2 linked regions of the Homo sapiens genome follow. The protein of the gene in region 1 purifies or fractionates together with the protein of each later gene. This does not show direct contact. Each region holds a gene or a part of one and is shown on either strand. Other genes may lie near its edges.

The links.
Region 2: the proteins of SH3RF3 (region 1) and KCTD3 purify together in Homo sapiens (affinity purification with mass spectrometry, with the first as the bait; one large-scale study listed by BioGRID). This does not show direct contact.

The regions. Positions count from the first base shown.
Region 1 is NC_000002.12:109,499,560-109,503,246, reverse strand, and holds part of SH3RF3 (E3 ubiquitin-protein ligase SH3RF3), read right to left. Parts: intron 1,745-3,687; coding exon 1,576-1,744; 3' UTR 1-1,575. UniProt on the Homo sapiens protein: Has E3 ubiquitin-protein ligase activity.
Region 2 is NC_000001.11:215,577,205-215,580,891, reverse strand, and holds part of KCTD3 (BTB/POZ domain-containing protein KCTD3), read right to left. Parts: intron 3,223-3,687; coding exon 3,164-3,222; intron 2,964-3,163; exon of another isoform or gene 2,902-2,963; coding exon of another isoform or gene 2,892-2,901; coding exon 2,811-2,891; intron 1,893-2,810; coding exon 1,755-1,892; intron 984-1,754; coding exon 893-983; intron 1-892. UniProt on the Homo sapiens protein: Accessory subunit of potassium/sodium hyperpolarization-activated cyclic nucleotide-gated channel 3 (HCN3) up-regulating its cell-surface expression and current density without affecting its voltage dependence and kinetics.

The DNA.
Region 1 (3,687 bases):
TTAATTTAAGTCTGAATGGTATTTGTAAAAATATAGGTGGAGAGAGGGGTGATGGATCAAAATTTTGAGGTGATAAAAATGTGTTCCTAAGGTGTGAATCTTGAGAACAAAATTGTCCCTGAAGGGCTCCTGATCAGTCTTCCTGGGAAGTGAGCCATGGTGCTAATGAATATACATTCATCAGCCCCACTCAGGGAGGTCCCAGCATCAAAGCTGCACCTCCTCCTCTCTCGCCCTCCCAACTCCCCGATCTTGCAAGCCTGCAGCGGTGCTGCAACCCCCTGATCTCCTTGTACCTCTGGTCTCCAGCAGATGAAGGTTTGCACTGCCTGAAATGGGAGCAGTTATTTATTTTTAAAAAAGAAGAAAAATGGTGGTGGTGATCTAAACTGTTGTAGAAACTGCACATTTTGATACCAAGAAATCATCTTCTGAGAATGCTAATTGCAGTTCTCTCTGAGGCAATAAAGGGAAGATTTTGCCTTCCCGGCTGGGGTTGACCTGCGTGCTCCTTCTACCGCCACACAAAAGGACAATTATAGTGGCCCTTCCTCGAAATGTTTCCAGGTCTTGAATAATAATCATCACCGTCTAGACAGAGCGCGGGGTTTTGGTAAGAGTTTAAAGAAACCGGCTGCTTCCAAGCTCCCTCCGACCCCCTCAATGGATCCACCCCGCCAGCCCCCAGAGTACTGGCCAGCGCTGAGGTGCGGGATGGCGGCTTCTCGGCGCTCTCCCAAAGCCATATGGGAAATATAAAAATTCTGCCCCTTTGATGTCGCCTCAGACATCTTTTCTTTCAAGCTCAACCAAGTCATTATTAGTTTTACAAAAAGGCAGCACCAGATGTATGAAAAATAGGCAATGTCTGACCTATTAGAAATATATAAAGTCTAACAGCTTTATGTTAAAAATATGCTGTAAGAAAGAAGTAATGCAAGGGACAATGGTGGTGAACAGAAAGTGTTGCTTATACTACTGGCAGGCGACAAGCCCACAGATTCTGCTCTGGTTCCCAACAGGGGCGGTGGGGTGCCCCTTCCGGGGCACCCCCAGGGCCTCACAAACACCCCTGCTGAGCAGCCGGGCGGCAGGTGACTGAGGTATATAGAATGGTGACAGAGCAACCTGGGCCCCGCGGGAAGCCCAGGGCAGCCCAGAAAGATGATCTCCAGCGCTCCTGGCCCCCATGCCACCCACCTCGCCTGCAGACCTCCTGCAACCTCCAACCCTGCTTAGGTGGTAAATGAGAACGCTGCCATGGCTGCAAACCACAGCCACAGGCCTGCCTGCGCCGGCACCTGCCTCTCTTCCTCAAGGTGCTTTCTTTGCAGTTTCCACAGAGGGGGTGGGCATTTCCTTGAAGAACATCCCAGGTGTGCTCTCCGTTTGGGGGTTTTGGGAGAAGGCACGACCTCCACAGTCCCTGGCCCCCACCCTGGGCCAGGGTATCCCCCGCCAGGTGCCTTGGAGATGACCTGGAACCCTTGGGGCGCCATGGCTCCCTCTCTGTGTGCCGTGGAGCTTCCCAGGCGGCCTCCCCCTCTGTGAGCTGGGTGCAGGGAGCACCAGTTCTCAGAAGCTCTCGACGAAGCTGCCCGGGAAGAGGCCTGTGCGGCCGTTCCGCTGCAGGGTCCCCTTGTACCAGCCGTCCTCACGCTTCTTGTGCACAAAGACGATGTCGCCTTCCTTCAGCTCGATCTCCGCCTCACTCTGGGGTGGGTACGAGACCACCACGCGGTACCTGGGGAAACAGCACAGTGGGTGAGCCCCACACAGACAATCTCCATCTGCTGGGTCGTGCTTTCTCTTCTTCCCTCGGTGTAAATTATTGTTATTTGCTGCTATTTTCCCACTTTATACAATTTCTATTTATCTTTATTTTTAATTTTTTCAAAACTCTGGAAATTTTTCATTTTTTAATAAAAAAAATTTAAAAGGCATTTCCCCCTGCTGTCCTTTTAGACGCTGATCTACGAAGAAGCTGGACTGTTTCACTCCCTTGAAGATTCTCCACCCAAGCACAGCCCCCCATCTCATATCCACGCTCCTGCCCTGGCCCACCCACCTAGACTGCGGCCTCCCAGGGGCAGGGGCGGGGGAGGGTCAGGAAAAACTGTGTCCCCATTTGCCCCATCCCAGTGTCAAGACCCTGGGCTCGTGTCCTCACCTCTCCCTCTGCAGGTTCCTCTGAAAAGCACGCTCCTCAACTGCAGCACCACCTCACAGGTTGGGGCCCAATGTGATGTGTGAAAGGTACTTGGAACATTGTTTATGTAAATTGTCCTTATTTTTTTGAGACAGGGTCTTGCTCTTCCACCCAGGCTGGAGTGCCGTGGTATGATCCTAGCTCACCGAAGCCTTGAGCTCCCAGGCTCAAGTAAGCCTCCCACCTCAGCCTCCCGAATAGCTGGGACCAAGGCACATACCACCATGCCCAGCCAATTTCTAATTTTTTTTTGTAGAGATGGGGTCTTGCTATGTTGCCCAGGCTGGTCTTGAACTCCTGAGTGCAAGTGATCCGCTGGCCTCAGGCTCTCCAAGTGCTGGGATTACGAGCATGAGCCACCGTGCCTAACCTGTCCTTATTTTTAAATGTGCTCCAAAAATCATAAGATTTTTTTCCCAGTGCCTTAGCATTGGAACTGGCTGAGGCCACAACATCAACATCAATAAGGCCCAACTTTCCCCACATCTCATTTCCACAAGACTTGGGCCCCCTGCAGCCTCTGAGGCCTCTTTGGAGTCCCTGTCTTCAGACCAATATGCTGTAGTGTGGAATCAGAGACAGGAGCCTTCCCTGGGGTCTTCCCTGCATGGCCTCCGCCTGCAGGGACCCAGGGGCATGGGGTGTGCTGCGTGGCAGGTGCTGGAGCTCTGAGTGCACCCCAGGGGCTCTCTGGGCTGTGGCAGGTGCTCCTGGCAACACTTAGCTGTGGCACTGACCAAGAGTTCTCTCCTCGACCACACTCCAGCCTGGCTCCTCTGAGCCCTCTTCTTGGCTGGGCCTCACCTCTGCCTATAACAACTTGAACAACCACTAACATAGCTTCTAACAGCTCAAGGTGGCATCCCTAGGCTGACCCCAGTCCCCTTTAAAGTGCCTGCCTGAGAAACCTCACGGCAGCCAAAAGAATCGACTGTGGGTTCCAGCCACACCTGAGGACAGCCACACACTGTCTCCTGACTTCAGTGAGCACGTCAGCATGTCCAGATGTGTTCACACGGACCACCCGCTTCCACCATCTGTAACTTTTCACTTCCCCCACTCTCCTGAGCCCCCACTCGCTGCCTCCCTGCTCCCTCATTCTCTCTTGGAAACCCCCAGTCACTTGTGTGCCAATTGAACCTGAGCTCAGCTCAGCCTGGACCCTATTCCCCATTGCAAATGTCAGTTATGTTGCCGATTAAAACCTGTCTGACTACTTTCACTAGTGTCCGGCTATGATTATGTTTGACAGGACACACACACACATACACACACACCCCCCTGCTCTGCTATCCCACACCCATCCTGCAAGCCACAGAGGAGGAGGAACAAGGCTGAAAAGCAGCTGTGGTGGCCCCAGGAGAGCCTTCCTCTAAAACACTGCCAAGGACGAACCAGTTGGGCCTTGTGCCCTCGGCCCTTATGCTTAGAGTCTGACAGGCAGGGCCCCATCCCCACTCCCACTAGCTGGGCCTCCC
Region 2 (3,687 bases), on another chromosome or scaffold:
CAGACATGCCAAACCTTTCATAAATTCAGATTTTTAAAAAAAAAATACATCTGGGATTCTTTAAACTATATCTGTAAACTTTAGAAGACATTTTAGATATTTTTCAGCTTATTGTGACTATTTTTCTTAACCGAACTCAACAGTGATAAACAAATAGTTTATGTATCTTTGATTTTTCTGCAATTAAATGAAATAATAATCTAAGCTAGTATATTCCAACCACTTTTGTGCTTCTACACCATTCTCTGTCATCAACATTTCTCAATGAGTACAGTGATTTTGAACTAAGAGTCCTATCACTTTCCCAATTAAAAAAAAAAAAATCACCGGTCTACACTATTCTTCATTGCTTCTCAGGCTCTGAGAATGTAAGCATTAGTAAAACCAAACTACTTCTTTGTAAGTTTCACATATTAGATATTAAACTATACCACTTGTGCAATAACTGTCCTGCTTTACTACCTCACTTCCCAAAATGTGGTATTTATGACCAATGTACTCTCCCTTGCTATAGAATACAAAACACTGAATCATTAGAGATAGACCATCAGGGAGCTCACATTAATAATCCTGTCTAACATCATTATATACTACAGTCTCAGAAGCTAGGTATAAGCAATAAATAATACATCAGGATATCTCAGTTACATGACAATTCACACTTGTCTGCTAAATGTTTACAACAGATAAAGGCTATCAGAAACATTTACCAAATTAGCTGTGAAAATAAAAGTACACTAAATCTTAATCAGATGATACAGACATGGGTAAAATATGCAGGGAAAAAACTTGATGACTAAAAAAAAATAGCTTTTCAATCTAAAAATATAAAATCACAATTAATTTTCAAACTGCCACCTGTAAAAGCAAAGCATTATTAATTATACACTACCTGTAACACACAGCAAAATGGGCATATGCAGCTACAATCCAGTTGTGATGGCCAGCTACTATTAGCACCTTTCGTGGATCCACAGGAAATCCTGTTGATTTTGGAAAAAGAAATATTTTACATTCTAAACCGGGGGTTGGCAAATTACAGCCACCAGGCCAGTTTCAGCCTTCTGCCTGTTTTGGTTAATAGTTTTGTTAAGAGCCGGGCACAGTGGCTCACACCTGTAATCCCAGCACTTTGGGAGGCCGAGGCGGGCGGATCATGAGGTCAGGGGATCGAGACCATACTGGCTAACACGGTGAAACCTCATCTCTATTAAAAATACAAAAAATTAGTCTGGCATGGTGGCGGCCGCCTGTAGTCCCAGCTACTCCGGAGGCTGAGGCAGGAGAATGGCGTAAACCCAGGAGGCAGAGCTTGCAGTGAGCCAAGATGGCACCACTGCACTCCAGCCTGAGCGACAGAGCGAGACTCCGTCTCAAAAAAAAAAAAAAAAATAGTTTTGTTAGAACCCAGCCATGCTTACTTGTTACATATTGTCCATTATGTGTTCATGCTACAATGGCAAAGTTGAGTAGGTCTGACAGAGAACACGTGGCCCACAAAGCCTAAAATATTTAATCTCTGGCTCTTACCAGATAAATTTTGGCAACCCTGTTCTAAAGATTCAGAGAAGATAGAAGATTACACAACATTTTAAATAAAAATTAAGTGTTAAATGAGACCTTTCCAAGATATAAATGATAAATCTGGATAAAAAAGGAGATGAGGCAAAAATCTTTAAAAGTAATTACTCAATATCACCCAGCACTAAAAACATACGTATTTTTCTTTTTCTATTTCTGTAATCTTTGCTTACCTAGCCTAACAGTTTCTTCTCCCGTTCCAGAGAGAACAGGCTGTGTACCATTTCCCCGGGCTTCACCTTCTGTAGAATTTAGACCATTCCTAGAATCAGCAGATCTGACTGTGTTGTTTATTTTACGACTAGGAATACCTATAAAGAGAAGAAGAAAACAAATACATTCCTAAGTTCACCTTTCAAAAATTAAAAATATCACATTGTGACAAAGAAACAAAAATGTGAATTTCATTAAAGCCGAAATACATCTTCCAATATAGCAAATTATTACAAATAATTTAATTACAATTAAAAAATAAAATGAAAATGAAAAAAACAAAGACAAAGACAAAATTCTGTCAACAGATTTCTGGTATTGTCATACTGTTTACAATAAATAAGCTTTAGGTTACTGAATTAATGGGTAATTAATTCAGTCTGCCAGCCACTCTTTACAATTATGGTACAGGTATTATGTGTTAGGTACTATGTAATAATTTAACTGCTTTAGAACTGAAATTCCCCATACTTTCAAACATTTTTTATTTGACAGGGGAACATTTTTTAAAATGAAATCTTGCTCAGAAGTCCATTATAACACAGGTAAAATCAGGCTCTTCTAACTAAAGTGGGGCTGAGGTGACACTGACTTATCTCTGCAGAATTCCTTAAATTTTGCAAAAAAGCAGTTTGACAACCAGTGCTCTAACATATGGGTCAGCAAACTATGGGCCATGGAAAATCCAGCCCAATCAATGCTATTTATGTAAATAAAGTTGTAGTGGTTACAGTTAAACCTAGTCTTCATGTAGTATACACAGCGGAGTTAAGTGGCTGTCACAGAGATCCTCTGGCTCACAAAATCTATCTGGCTCTTTACAGAAAAAGTTTGCCAAACCCCTGCTCCAATATATAATGTGACTTAATTTCTATAAAAATCAAAAGTTCTTACCATTTCTAATAGATTTATAGACAAAAAACTCAATAATCAAGGAGCAGTTTTTCCTATTCATATGCTTGTACTTGCTTAATGATACAAGGAATTTTTTAAAAGATTTAATAAAGTGAAAATACCTGGTGGGGGCAAGTAACCATGAAAAAGGACACTGCCACAAGAGGAACGCTCCAATTCTTCACATAAGAGAAGCCTTCTTACTAAAAACATTTCAAAGCAAACTTGTCAAGAGTACATGCAAACAGAAAAACAGTACTCCATTTTTATTTTCTCTAGTTCAAGAGGATAAGGAAAGAAAAGGAAAATTTTAATTAAGTCAGAGTTGACAACATCTTTTTACTATGAAAATCCACAAAAACTAAGCACTGAACAAGTCCATCAAAAATTAGGACCTGATATAAACACATTTCATTTAGGGCAACTTTCATACATGAGTCAAATCATAAACACCAAATATTAAAAGAGCACATACCTAATGGAGTGATCCCGTAAAATTCTGCTTCATGCCTGAGAACATTAATACTCACTCCCCTACAAAGAAACAAATGATGTAAATTCTCTAACACTGGAAACCTGTATTATCATCTGACATGAAAGGAAAAAATTCTAGGTTCTTCATGTATATAGTCATAAGGCTTTAAAAATTATTTTCCTCCTAATACTCTTTATTTCTATTATCCTTAATCATTAAAAAGTGTAAATAAAAACTGCATGTGAACAAAAATATTCTGTTATCTACTTAAAAACCATTCATATATATACATATATATGAATTGGGTCACTAAAGGAGAGATTAGGGCTCTATCAGGCTAGTACAAATAAATTGTCTAGAAGGCAAACGATAGAATGGAAACCATTCTTTTATGGCATTAGTTGCTTTTAACTTTTTATCGCAATTATTTCTATACATATCTATCTTAATCTCCCCAATTACACTATAAATTCCCTGCGAGCATGATCTATTTCTGATCTATGTTTGTATACCTCACAGTGCCT